Homo sapiens: one gene and its partners. The protein of the gene in region 4 purifies or fractionates together with the protein of the main gene of each other region. This does not show direct contact. Each region holds a gene or a part of one and is shown on either strand. Other genes may lie near its edges.

Region 1 (3,642 bases), on a different chromosome or scaffold from region 4:
ATCTAACTTTGTGTTCATAGTGTCTGACTTACAGTGGTCATTAATATAGCCATAATAAATAATGAATACATATTGATTATCTTAACCCTGGCCTAGTTATTATCTCAGTAATAAAAGACTAGATATATTTAGATCCATGTCAGCTACTAATTTAGTTAATAGTTTAAGTTCTTGTTTTTTCAGTTCGTGCAATATACATGATTGGGTGTTTCCTATAGGCCAGGCAGCTTGCGGGGCTGTGGAGTGAAAAGACTTGGGAAATAAAGGCGTTATTAAGAGAGTTAAGTGGTTTAAGGGTATTTCAAGGTACAGAGCTTGATAAATTCAGGAAGTTTATACTTGAAATTTGCTAAGTAAGTAGATCTTAAATGTTTTTACCACAATTAGCTGGGCATGACAGCATGCGCCTGTAGTATGCTTATAGTCCTGGCTACTCCGGAGGGGCTGGGGCAGGAGGACTGCTTCAACTCAGAAGTTTGAGGCTGCAGTGAGCTGTGATTGGGCCACTGCACTCCAGGCTGGGCAACAGAGACCCTGACTCAAAAAGGAAAAAAAAAAAACTAACTGAGGTGATGGATACGTTAATTAGCTTAATAGTGGTAATAACACACACACACACACACACACACACACACACACACACACACACACACACACACAGTTTTGGTTTTTTTTTTTTTTTGGAGACAACGCCTCACCCTGGCCCAGGCTGAAGTGTGCAGTGGCGTGATCTTGGCTCACTGCAAGCGTAGCCTCTTGGGCTCAAGTGATCCTCCCACCTCAACCTCCCAAGTAGCTGGGACTACAGGCATGTGCCACCACACGTGGCTAGTTTTTAGATTTTTTTGTAGAGGCAGGGTCTCACTGTGTTGCCCCTGCTGGTCTCGAACTCCTGGGCTCAAGTGATCTGTCCCCCTTGGCCTCCCAAAGTGCTGGGGTTACAGGCATAATCAATCATGCCTGGCCTTATAATTTTTAATTGTCAGTTATACCCCAGTAAAGGTGGAAAAGCAGGAAGACAACAGGGAAAAAAATTTTAATAAACTTGAAAAAAAAGGTCCAAGTTTCTTTTTTTGGAGGTGTTTATATTATTAATATATGTGGTTAAAGTAATTTTTAAAACTTTATGTAACTCTTTGTTACGTGTCATTTTGTGATAATCTCTTGTTTACTAAGTTCATTTTTTACAACTTGTACAGTATTCCCATTGTGAGACTAAGTAGTAAAACCCAGTTAATACATACCTATATTTAAAGAGGAAAATATTTTAGTTGAGCCTTTTTGATTTCCATGTAATTTAGAAATAAGATGATTTTATTCTCTTCATTTTCATAAACTGAATAATTATTGCTTTCTTACATATAGAGACAGTACTTTTAGGTACAGACTGTTTTTGCTTTCTAGCCATTTGTATTCTAAGAAAATTAAAATCATTTCCCTTTTTTTTCCTTTCATAAGATTTACCAAGTGTTTTGGAAAAGTTTGACATAAAAGCTTACAGGTCTGTCAGAGGAGATTTTAAAAGGGATTTCATGGGAAGTCTTTTTTTTTTTTTTTTGAGATGGACTCTCACTCTGTCACCCAGACTGGCGTGCAGTGGTGCAGTCTCAGCTCACTGCAACCTCCGCCTCCCAGGTTCAAGCAATTCTCCTGCCTCCGCCTCCCAGGTTCAAGCAATTCTCCTGCCTCAGCCTCCCAGGTAGCTGGGACGACAGGCCTGTGCCACCATGCCCGGCTAATTTTTGTATTTTTAGTAGACATGGGGTTTCACTATATATTGGCTAGGCTGGTTTTGAACTCTTGACCTCAAGTGATCCACCCACCTCAGCCTCCCAAAGAGCTGGGATTATAGGCGTGAGCCATCGCGCCCGGCCCGGAAAGTCTTTAATGAGAAGCACTAGCTTCCAGACAAAATTTCATGAGATAGTATAGTTTGTTCAACTCAAACCCAGGATCTTTAATGTCCGAGCAACCACTTTGCTATCAAAGTTGGAGTTAATTGCATTAAAAGGAGTTATCAGATCAATATTCTACTGTTGTTGAATCATCTGAGTAAAGAAATACTGTCTCTTTTTAAATTTATTTTGAGGTAATCTCAAATTTATTTAAAAAACTAGAAGACTTAATGCAGTTGGAAAAATAGTACAGAGAATTTCTGTATAGACTTGACTTAGATTGACCAATTTTTAACATTTTGCCACTTTTGCTTTATTATTCTCTCTATATATGTAAATTTATATGTCTAACCATATATTCTGAACCATTTAAGAACAAGTTGCATGCATCATACCCCTTTACTTGTTAATACTTCAGAATATATTTCCTAGGAAGAAGACTATTCTGTTGTATAACTCTAGTATTGTTAACTAATTTCAGGAGATTTAACACTGACATAATACTTTAATCTACAGTGCATATTTTGACAATTGTCTCAATAAGGTTCCTTCCAGCTTTTTTTCTCTCTAGTCCAGTAATCTAGAACAGGATCACATATTACATTGTAATGTCTCTTTTTAGTTTTCTGTGATCTGGAACAGTTTCCCAGTTTTGTCTTTCTTGACAATGATATTGATTGAAGAATATAGGTCTTATTTAATAGAATATTCCTCAACTTAGATTTGATTAATATTTTCTCATGGTTAGATTCAGGTTATGCATCCCTGGCTGGAATACTACATAAATGATGGTTTGTTGATTTGTTCTTTTTGGGGGTATTGCAAGGGACCAAGTAATGTAAGGCTTCATAAAGAGTTTGGAGTTTGTTAAACGTAATGCAGAGTCATTAGAGAGTCTTAAAAACTAAAGTATATTTTAGAAATGTCACTCTGGCAGCTACAGAAAGGCAAGGTGGGCAGACGCAGACCAGACAAGAGACTATTTTGTAGTTCCGGTACAGTAAGGTATTTGTAAGGTAACTTAGAGGTAATAAAGTAATAAGGTAACTTAGATTTGGATGACAGTAATGAAGCTGATGAGACAGATTCAACAGTGCTTTATAAAATTAACTTATATTACTATTATGAGTAATTTATACTTTATTCCAACTGCATTAGCATACATTTGAAAAAGTAATAGCAGCAAAATAATAAGACATTATTCCATGTTAGGGGCAGTGCTTATTGGGCACATGGATTTGCAGTTCCTTTTCAACAATTTCTTAGTTCCCAGGAGATTGCATACCCTTAGTACGTTTATCTCAAACTACAACAGATGCTCTTATCCAGTATGTTATACTGCTTATGATTTCAACAAGCAGTTCAGTCAGGAAATGTTTTGTGAACACCTGCTGCTAGACATGGATCTATGCTCTGATACAGTGGTGAAACAAGTGCATTTACAAATAAATAATATAATTTTAGCTAGCGAAGGATAAATGTAAATCAGTGAAGCGTGGTAAGGAATGGAGAGTAAGGGAGGAGGGAGGCACGTGATTCTTAAGCAGTCCTTGAGCAGAATGATATCTGAATGATGAAAGTGAAATGTGAGATGATGAGAGGCAGTAGCAAAAATAGAGGCATCAAGAAAGGTACAAGCTTAGAGAATCAGGACTAGCAAGAAGACATAGTCTGCCTGGCTCATGAGCTAAGGGCAGGACATGAGGCAGTTTAATGTGTTAGAGGCATGAATTTACTATGAAAAGAT
Region 2 (3,642 bases), about 68 Mb from region 4:
TATATAGGTCTATTGGTGAACATTTAACATAATTACCATTTTGCACCATCACGAACAATTCATTTAACAAATACTTACTAAGTGTCTACTACATTCTAGGCTCTGTATCTGTATCTTGCAGATACAGCAAAAAATAAAACAAAGATCTTGCCCTCTTGGAGCTTGTATTCTTGCAGGAGGAGGAGGACAATAAACAGAATAAAATACATAGTGTAAACTTTTTTTGAAAAGGGACAGAGAGTAAATATTTTAGGCTTTGCAGGCCACATATATATGTCACGTATTTTTTGCTTTGTTTCATAACCGTTTAAAAATGTAAAAACCATTCTTTTGCTTATAGGATGTACAAAAACAGGGCAGAAGCTCATGGAGCTGTGGCTTGCTGACCCCTAATATAGTATGTTAGAAGGTTGTATGTGCTATGCAAAAAATAAAAAGGAGTCCAGGATAAGAGTGGGTGGGGAAGGGCAGGATAGAATATAGTATTAAACAGGGTATTCATAGATGGTAAGATCTGAGCAAAGACTGGGAGGTAAGTCCATTGAGCCAAGCAGATATGTGGAAGAAGTACATTTCAGAGAGTGGAGCCAGCAAGAGTCCTAAAGTAGGAACAGGACAGACATAGCAAGCAGGCCAGTGAGTAAGGGGAGAACAGTGGTAACAGTAAATGAGGTCAGGAAGGTAAGGAGAAAGTGGAGTGGATTGGGCAGATCATGTAGAGCCTCACAGGACCAGCTTTTCTCTGAGTGAATGAAAGGGAATGTCTTAGTCCATTCGGGTTGCTATAACAAAATACCATAAATGAGATAGCTTATAAATGACAGAAATTGATTGCTTACCATTCTGTAGGATGGGAAGTCCAAGAGCAAGGCATATTCAGTATCTGGTGAGGGCTGCTTTCTAGCTCACAGACTTCTTGCTGTGTCCTCAAGAGACAAAGGGCAAGGGATCTCTCTAGAGTTTTGTTTTGTTTTGAGACAGAGTCTCACCCTGTCACCCAGGCTGGAGTGCAGTGGCGTGACCTCAGCTCACTGCAACTTCCGCCTCCTGGGTTCAAGCGATTCTCCTGCCTCAGCCTCCCGAGTAGCTGGGACTACAGGCACGTGCCACCACGCCCGGCTAATTTTTTGTATTTTTAGTAGAGACAGGGTTTCACGGTTTTAGCCAGGATGGTCTCGATCTCCTGACCTCATGATCCGCCCACCTCAGCCTCCCAAAGTGCTGGGATTACGGACATAAGCCACCGCACCTGGCCTCTAGGACTTTTTAAGGGCACCAATCCTATTCATGAGGACTCCACTCCCATTTCCTAATACCTTGGGAGTTAGGATTTCAACAGTTTGGGAGGACACATACATTCAGATCGTAACAGGAGCCATTGCAGGAGAAGTGACAGGGACTGTCTTAATTTGCGAAAGGTTTATTCTGGCTACTGTATTGAGAAAATACTGTTGGAAGGGGATAGGGCAGAAGGGGCAGACCAGGTAGTAACCTATTTCAGTAATCCAACAAGATGTGATGGTAGTGGCTTGGACAAGGGTGGTGGCAGTGGAGGAAGCAGTGAGGCATGATAGGATTTTCGATGTATTTTGACGATACAGAAAACAGATTGTCCTGAAAGAACAGATCTGAAGAGTAAAAGAAAAAGTGAAGTAAAAAAATAAGGCCAAGATTTTGGTCTGAGCTACAGGAGGACGGAGTTGCCACTGACAGAAATGGGAGAGTCTGTGGGTAAAGCAGGCATTGGGGAGAAAGTTTAGGAGTTTAGTTTTGGATATGCTGACTTTGATGTCTATTATTAAACATTTAGGGGAGATGTTGAATAGGTAGTTGCACATGTAAGACTGGAATTGAGGAGGGGGCTAAAGATCTAAATTTGGGTATTGTTGATATTTACATGGTATTTCAAGCCATGAGACTAAATGAGATTACCAATAAAGTGAGCATAGATAGAAACAAATAAACAAACAATTAAGACTTGGGGCTCTCCAACATTAAGAGGTCAGTGAAAATAAAGGAAAAGGAGAATTACAAGGACCAGCACTGAGACAGCAGATAACCAGGAACGTGTGACGTCCTCGAAGGCAAAGAAGAAATGGTTTCAAGGCTAAGGGAAGCAAACAGCTGTGTCAAATGCTGCTGACAGGTCACATAGGATGAGAATCAATAACACAGGGCATTTAACAATATGGGGGCTACTGAAGAACCAGAGGAGCTGTTTCTGTGGGAGTGGTGCAGACAAAGACCTCACTAGAGTGGGTTTAACAGAGTACTAGAGGAGAGAACTTGGCAATAGCAAGTACAGACAACTATTTTGAGAAATACTGCTCCCAAAGGAAACAAAAAATTGGGGTAATGTGGTGAAGTGGGACAAGATTTTTTCCTAAGAGGGGAGAAATAATAGCATATCTGTTTGCTGATAGAAATGATTCAATAAAAAGAACAAAATTGATGATGTGGAAGAAGAGAACCTGAAGCAAAGTCCTTGAGCAGATGAGAGAGAATGGGGCCTAGTACAAAGGCAGACAAGAATATGAACAGTTAATCTAAGGTAACAGGCAGGAAGACAGCCATGTACTGAGCAGATGCTGCGCAGACCCTTTCATAAATAGAGTGCCAGAGGTATGTGGAGTGGTGGCAATCTATGGAAGTTCTGATTACTTCAATTTTCTCAGCAAAGTGGGAAGCAAGGTCATGAGCTGAAGGTGAGGATGGGAAAAGAGATATAGAAGGTTTGGGGAAAATAAGATATGAAATAGTCATTTAGAGGAGTGGAAGAGTAAGCAGACTAGGAAAATACAGTACAACCATCAGGCAGCATTACAGACCCACTTAAGGTTTGTGGCCATGTGTGGTTGTGTGGTTTTTTTTCTGGCCATGCTCAGTTACATAGGGGCAAGTGCAAAAAAAACCCCAGAGTTTGTTTTAACTAGAGCTCTGGTTTTGCCAAACAAGCAAAGAGCAAGGAAAGGGATCCAAAGAAGTAATTAAACTGATTAATCATGAAATTTAGATGAGTAAATTCCACATAAAAGGGAGTGAAAACATCAAGAGGGTAAGGGGCAGGGGAGCAGTAATAGGATCAATGGGTTGGAGATTCCATTGGGGTCAGAAGATGGTTAGGGCTGAGGCACTAGGAGTGAGCTGCAAAAATAGGAAGAAGCGGTAACAGAGCAGAACACATGAAATGGCAACTATGGAGGGACTGCAGTTATTGACAGTGCACGAGGGTATCACTGTGGAATGAGTGGCTGATATAGCATAGATGGGAAGAGCACTGGAAGAGAGGTCTAGGAAGTGAGAGGCCAGGGTTTGGGTGGATCAGTTATGTACATTCTTATCAATTTCAATATAAAGACTGGAGAGTGGGACAGTGGGCCTTTATGACATAATTCAAAACTGAAGATTATAGGGAGAAAGGAGGAAGCATAGTCTGAAAGAAGTAAGAAGACTCATGACAGATATCTTTCCCACCTCTAGAAACAGTGGGAGGAAAGTTACGGAGCAAACAAACAAAAACAGCCACAACTGCACAGTGGAAGAGAGTCCGGTTTCCATTACAGCAAGAAAGTGAAAGCAACATCTAAGAATGGTTCAGACTGGATTTTGCAGATGATGGATAGTTAATTTCACAAAGTACAG
Region 3 (3,642 bases), on a different chromosome or scaffold from region 4:
GAGGAAATATTGTTTTGTCCCCTATTTTTAAAAAGCATTGATAATAAACTTGTTATCAATTATGAATTTACATTCTTTACTTTTTTTTTTTTTGGAGAAAGGGTCTCACTCTGTTGCCCTGGCTGGGCTCCAGCAATCCTCTCATCCCAGCCTCCGCTAGGACTACAGGCACATGCCACCATGCCTGGCTATTTTTTCATGGGTTTTTTTTTTTTCTTTTTTGAGACAGAGTCTTGCTCTGTCGTCCAGGCTGGAGTGCAATAGCGTGATCTTGGCTCACTGCAACCTCCACTTCCCAGGTCCAAGCGATTCTCCTGCCTCAGTTTCCCGAGTAGCTGGGATTACAGGCACCCGCCTGTAATTAGCCGGACATTAACCATGCCCGGCTAATTTTTGTATTTTTAGTACAGACGGGGTTTCACCATGTTGGTCAGGCTGGTCTCGAACTCCTGACCTCAGGTGATCCGCCCTCCTCGGCCTCCCAAAGTGCTGGGATTACGGGCATGAGCCACTGTGCCAGGCCTCTTTTTTACACAGAGTTGTTTTTGTGGAAATACGATTGTCAGGTTAACAATGACTACTGTTATTCTTTTACTAGTAACCAGCTGTTGATTCCAAGTCTAAGAAGGACATCTCTCCTCTAGTTAATTAGTTGTAGTTTAGAATCTTTTCCCAGGCCAATGTGTCAGTTGACACTCAAGAAAGGATGGCATCCACCTCTGGCTTTGGGGCACTACCAGGTACTATTTGGAAAGAAGTAACCCAACCGTCAGTTGACTGGAGAGTCCAGGAGAAGGGAAAAGTAAAACTTATGTTTGTACAAGAAAGCATTCCACTACAACTGTATTGCAACTCCCACAGGGTAGGATTTAAAAAAAAAAAAAAGGAGAAAACCTTACTGGATATGTTAACGCTGCTGGGATTACAGGCGTGGGCCACTGGGCCCAGTCTAAAGATCTGTTTACTCATTATATTCATTATAAAAGATATTTTGGGAAGGCTTAGACTAGACTGGCCATTGAGAATGATTTGGGAATCTACACATTGCTTTATGCCAATCTTTCTCTGTAAACGAAACTGGTATCTACATTGGATGGCTGCATCAATTCCATTATCTCTATGATGTAAGCGCACATCAATCTTAATGAGGACAGCGGACTTCAATCTTAATAACAACCACTTACGAGTCAATATAGTAGTTTCTCCCTGAATGTGGATGTCACAGAATCTCAGACTCTGTAATCAGACTCCCCGGATCTAAATCCCGGCTCTGTATCTTCCCACCTTCACCTTTTTATGCCTCAATTTCCTTACAGTAAAATAAGGAAATATGAGTACTACCTGGGCTTCATAGGGTGGCTGGAAAAAAGTAAATGAGCACACAGAACAGAGCTTTGCACACAATAAGTGCTCAGTAAGTGTCAGCTGCTTTTATTGTTTCATCCTTTAAAGAGAAATTCTGCATCAGGCCCCTTCCAATCAACAGATATTTTATCAACATCTTATATAATCTCACTAAAATAGCGAATGAAACCACTGTGACTTATGACTCTTCTCCTTTCGACCCTGAGGCATAGCTCAGGCAAGTATCTTCATTACACTCACATTGCTTCAGTAGTTATTAAGGCAATATTTTCTGACTTACACAGTGACTTCCAATTCCTCATCTCATAGGTTGCTAGTTTTATGTTTTTATTATTTATTATTTTTTTTTAGAGATGGGGTTTGACTATGTTGTACTGGCTGGTCTTGAACTCCTGAGCTCAAGTAATCTTCCTGCCTCGGCCTTCCAAAGTGCCAGGATTACAGGCATGAGACACTGCGCTTGTCCTATTAATTTTTATATATTTTTTTAAGAGATGGGGGTCTCACTATGGTGTCCAAGCTGGTTTTGAACTCCTGAGCTCAAGCAATCCTCCTGCCTTGGCCTCCTAAAGTGCTAGGATTACAGATGTGAACTATCACGCCCAGTCTCAGGTCGCTAGTTTTAGAAATGAAATCTAAGTGGTTTTTTTTGGTAAAATTAAGGTAGAAAATGCATGACTTGGATGCTTTAAAGAGGAAGAGGGGTAAAGTCCTTCCAAAATGTACTAGAAACGAAAAGAAAAAGGCCGGGCGCAGTGGCTCACACCTGTAATCCCAGCACTTTGTAAGGCCGAGGCGGGCGGATCACAAGGTCAAGAGATCGAGACCATCCTGGCCAACATGATGAAATGCTGTCTCTACTAAAAATATAAAAAGTAGCTGGGCGTGGTGGCATATGCCTGTAATCACAGCTAATCAGGAGGCCGAGGCAGGAGAATCGCTTAAACCCGGGAGGTGGAGGTTGCAGGGAGCCGAGATCACGCCACTGCACTCCAGCCTGGTGACAGAGCGAGACTCTGTCTGGAAAAAAAAAAAAAAGAAAGAAACAAATAGAAAGAACTCTGGGCTGTCTGGTTTTCTCCTTTCTTCCAACCACCATGCTTCCTTCTTTCTTTCTTCCTCTTTCTGGCTTTTCTTTCTAGCTATAATGGTTTTTGTTTTTTTTTTTTTAACTTTTTTATATGTTATGGGAAAACACAATGGATTCATTCACAAACAAAATTAGTTATGCAGAACCAAACATGCAACCAAAGCACGCCAGAGAGACAGGATTCCGGAGCAGAACTTACCCCACGCTTTAGGCTCCTGAAGCAGTGGATTTTGGGTTTGGAGGTCATGAACTCGTTGAAGCGATGGGAGAGGGGTTCCTTTTGCTGCTTGGGAGACTGGGGGCCGTTGGGAACAGCAGAGGGTGAGGCAGAGGCAGGAGGGGGAGGGGGAGGCTGATGGGGGGATGTTAAAAGGGACATAAGCTACATGTAAGAGATGGAGCCGTGACAGAGTAAAAATCAGAAACAAGAAGACACAAAACAAAAATAAGCATCAAATAATATTTGAAATCCAACGCAAGTAAAACACAAACAATTAAATTTTAGGCCATGGTCCAAAAGAAAACATGTAGGAGGTGGTTAAATGAAGAATATGATGAGAGTTGGGAGGTTTAGTAAGTAATGCGACAGAAGAGCAAGAAATATCTGACAAGAAGCTCGTGCAGACTTTCCCATGCAAACTATAGCTCTAGTTAGTTACTCTAAACCAGCTTAAGCCAGAGGGTAAATATTTCTACATTACCTAAACTAACATAGCTTGATGGGAGAAAATGAAAGACCTTCAATGCTAAGGTTGTGGAAACAGCAGTCTGTTTAAATTAATAAATAGTAAGTCATTCTAAAGTTAAAGCAGTAATGCTGCCTTGATCATATTCTACGTCCCCAGGTTAATGCTGTCATGCACCTATGTATCGCACTATGAAAAGAAAATGAAAAATGTTCATGGGTACACATGTTAACATGAATTCAAAACCAAGTTATTAACATGGTAACGATTTCCAGTAGATGTGCGGATAAAGTGTTACAGGAATGTCCCACTACATCCTCTCTCCCAGCCAAGGTAACCAGCAGTCTAGGAGAGGAAGGAGGGAAAGGCATGAGGCGAAACGGTGGAGAGGTCAGTACTCTGTTAGTGTGGGAGTCACGGTACGAGGATAATGCATCTGAAATAAGACACAGGGCCATGGCAAAGATACCACCACCAAAAAGAAATACTGTCTCAACATAA
Region 4 (3,642 bases):
GGCTAGCCTCAAACTCCTGGGCTCGGGTGGTCCTCCTACCTCAGCCTCCTAAGTAGCTGGGACTATAGGCACACGCTACTGTGCCTGGCAACCATTTGCTTTTTTATAAGTAATAGTCTTAAATTTCTTCACAGGTAGAGCACTAGTTTGCCCCCAAAGTCATAAATTTGTCTCTCTCTCTTTCTGACTGTGCATGTCTGTGTGTGTGTGTGTGTGTGTGTGTGTGTGTGTGTGTGTGTGTGTGTATGTGTAATGGTCTTTGGAGTCTCCATACCATGTAATTAAAGCTATGGGCAGAATCCATGCCTTTTGTATTTTTGAAGCTTATTGTAGAAGTCATGTGTTGGTGATTCCTACACCCACTTAGTGGTGCCTAATGTTAGAAGAGCCCCATATTCTCCTGTTTACTTATGTTTTCTGTGCCTAAAAGGATTTACAGGTTAAGAGTACATGTAGACCTCATTTTTGGAATGGAAGTTTCTAGGATACCCACTTTAGCCTAATCTAAGATGATGCTTAGTGGGTGTATAGATGCTTTCTTAATCTGTGTAAGCAGGAAATTTTTTTTGGGTCCTGTTTCTCCCATATCACATAGAGAGGAAATTCTTGGAGTATCTAGTCTTTATAGTATGTGTGGTAGAGTATAGTCTGTGCCTTTGTGAATAAAATGACCTGTTTTGGCCAAGCAAAAATTTTCCCTTTTCTTTTTCTGTCTGACAAGATGAGCTGTCTTCTTTTATTATTATTGCCTTTGAATTTTCAGTGTGAAAAGGTAACAGTGTTCTTCAAAAAATACTCATGTAATTGGCATTTGATGAATAATACTAAAATCCTCCGTCTCATCTTTCCTAAATATTTTGTTTATTTTTATTTATTTTTTTGAGACAGGGTCTCATTCTGTCACCCAGGCTGGAGTGCAGTGGCACGATCTTGGCTCACTGCAACCTCCGCCTCCTGGGTTCAAGCGATTCTTCTGTCTCACCCTCCTGAGTAGCTGGGATTACAGATATCCACCACCACTCCCAGGTAATTTTTATATTTTTGGTAGAGACAGCGTTTTGTCACGTTGGCCAGGCTGGTCTCAAACTTCTGGCCTCAAGTGATTCTCCCACCTTGGTCTCCCAAAGTGTTGGGATTACAGGTGTGAGCCACCATGCCTGGCCTTCATTTTTCCTAAATATTTATAACCACCGGGCATGGTGGCTCACGCCTGTAATCACAGCACTTTGGGAGGCCAAGGCGGGTGGATCAGCTGAGGTCAGGAGTTAGAGACCAGCCTGGCCAACATGGCAAAATTCTGTCTCTATTAAAACAAAAAATTAGCCGGGCTTGGTGGAGGGCGCCTGTAATCTGAGTTACTCAGGAGGCTGAGGGAGGAGAATCGCTTGAACCCAGGAGGCAGAGGTTGCAGTGAGCCGAGATCACGCCACTGCCCTCCAGGCAGGGTGACAGAGAGAGACTCTGTCTCAAAAAAAAAAAAAAATAAATTATTTTAGAAACAAGTACCTAGACATCCAAAAAGATGATGAATTGGTGTGTAGTTTGGGAGTGAAGTTTGTCTTGTTGCTCTAATGGGGCAGGATTAGGTGAGAAATAAGAAATGTGGAGCCCTAGTATTTTTGCTCTAGAATTAGTTGGTCTTCTACATTTTGTGTACAGAGGAGTAGACCCTCTAAGGACCTCTTTATATTTAATATCAGAGCCAAGAGCTGAGAAAAAACAAGCTACTCTTTCTTGCTGGCCAAGCAAAAGACCTTTTGGTTAGAGGAATGGACTCACATCTTTCAGTACATTTTTTTTTTTTTTTTGAGATGGAGTCTTGTCGCCCAGGCTGGCACGATCTTAGCTCACTGCAACCTCTGCTTCCTGCATTCAAGTGATTCTCCTGCCTCAGTAGTGAGATTACAAGTGCGTGCCACCATGCCTGGCTAATTTTTCTATCTTTAGCAGAAATGGGGGTTTCACCATATTGGCCAGGCTGGTCTCGAACTCCTGACCTCAGGTGATCTGCTCGCCTAGGTCTCCCAAAGTGCTGGGATTACAGCCGTGAGTCACCCACCTGGCCCTTTTGTTATTTTAAACATTGGGGTAAATACCTGCTTCGTATTTCTTCAGGCATTCTTAGCATGTTTCTTAGCTATCGAAGCCCTTGATTAGAAGAGCTAGCACTGCATTGAATCCTATTAAGAAATGTATCCATGTTCAGAATAGAAGTTAGGTTAAAAATTTCTTAAAAACCACTTTAGGCCTGGTGCGGTGGCTAACGCCTGTAATCCCAGCACTTTGGGAGGCCGAGGTGGGTGGGTCACAAGATCAGGAGTTTGAGACCAGCCAGACCAACATGGTGAAACCCCATCTCTACTAAAAAACAAAAATTAGGTGGGCGTGGTGGCACGCACCTGCAATCTCAGCCTACTCAGGAGGCTGAGGCAGGAGAATTGCTTGAACCTGGGAGGCAGAAGTCGCAGTGAGCTGAGATCGCGTCACTGCACTCCAGCCTGGGTGACAGAGTGAGACTCCATCTCCAAAAAAAAAAAAAAAACCACTTTAAAAAATGGTTTTTATTTTAAATTTTTATTTATTTATTTTGAGATTAGGATTACAGGTGTGAGCCACCACACCCAGCCTATTTTTATTTATTTATTTATTTTTAGAGATGGGCTTTTGCTCTGTCACCCAGGCTGGAATGCAGTGGCATGATCATAGTTCACTGCAACCTCGAATTCCTGGGCTCAAGCAATCCTACTGCCTCAGCCTCCCAAAGAGCTAGGTCTAACTAGAGGTGTACTCCACCACTCCACCTGATTTAAAAAAAAAAAAATGTTGCCCAGGCTAGTCTTGAACTCCTGGCCTCAAGGGATCCTTCTGCCTGGGCCTCCAAAAATGCAGAGATTACAAGTTGTAAGCCACTGTGCCTGACCGAAAAACCAATTTTTAAATTTTAATTTTAGAATTGTGGTCTTTTAATTTTTTTAGCAAATCGAAATAAAAATACAGTTTCTAAAGAAAAGATTGTGTGAGACATGGTTTTCAATTTTTGTCGTAAGAATGAATGTGTGTGTATATGTGTGTTTGTGTGTGTATGTGTGTGTGTGACGGCCCTCTTTTAAAATTATTACAAAAGTGGCCGGGCGCGGTGGCTCACGCCTGTAATCCCACCACTTTGGGAGGCCAAAGCGGATGGATCATCTGAGGTCAGGAGTTTGAGACCAGCCTGGCCAACATGGTGAAAGCCTGTCTCTACTAAAAATACAAAAATTAGCTGGGTATGGTGGCAGGCGCCTGTAATCCTAGCCACTTGGGAGGCTGAGGCAGGAGAATCTCTTGAACCCGGGAGACGGAGGCTGCAGTCAGCCAAGATCATACCAGTGCACTCCAGTCTGGGTAACAGAGCAAGACTCCATCTCAAAAAATTAGAAAATAATAAAATTATTACAAAATAGTTACTTGTTGAAAAACTCAACAATATAGATAGTAGGTATAAGGGGAAAAGTAAAAGTGCTTCTTCCCACCCCCATTAATTCTTCAAATTCTACCCTTCAAGGTAACCAATATTAAAATTTTTCATTCAGTAAATTTTCTAGGCCTATCTTTCTATGTATATATGTATATATGTTCATATACACATACTTTAAAGGCATA

Evidence for each region.
Region 1: the proteins of ANKHD1 (region 4) and TSNAX fractionate together in Homo sapiens (co-fractionation; one large-scale study listed by BioGRID). This does not show direct contact.
Region 2: the proteins of ANKHD1 (region 4) and TNPO1 fractionate together in Homo sapiens (co-fractionation; one large-scale study listed by BioGRID). This does not show direct contact.
Region 3: the proteins of ANKHD1 (region 4) and FNBP1 fractionate together in Homo sapiens (co-fractionation; one large-scale study listed by BioGRID). This does not show direct contact.

The regions. Positions count from the first base shown.
Region 1 is NC_000001.11:231,531,527-231,535,168, forward strand, and holds part of TSNAX (translin-associated protein X), read left to right. Parts: intron 1-3,642.
Region 2 is NC_000005.10:72,823,019-72,826,660, reverse strand, and holds part of TNPO1 (transportin-1), read right to left. Parts: intron 1-3,642. UniProt on the Homo sapiens protein: Functions in nuclear protein import as nuclear transport receptor. Serves as receptor for nuclear localization signals (NLS) in cargo substrates.
Region 3 is NC_000009.12:129,921,190-129,924,831, forward strand, and holds part of FNBP1 (formin-binding protein 1), read right to left. Parts: intron 2,838-3,642; coding exon 2,655-2,837; intron 1-2,654. UniProt on the Homo sapiens protein: May act as a link between RND2 signaling and regulation of the actin cytoskeleton. Required to coordinate membrane tubulation with reorganization of the actin cytoskeleton during the late stage of clathrin-mediated endocytosis.
Region 4 is NC_000005.10:140,404,770-140,408,411, forward strand, and holds part of ANKHD1 (ankyrin repeat and KH domain-containing protein 1), read left to right. Parts: intron 1-3,642. UniProt on the Homo sapiens protein: May play a role as a scaffolding protein that may be associated with the abnormal phenotype of leukemia cells. Isoform 2 may possess an antiapoptotic effect and protect cells during normal cell survival through its regulation of caspases.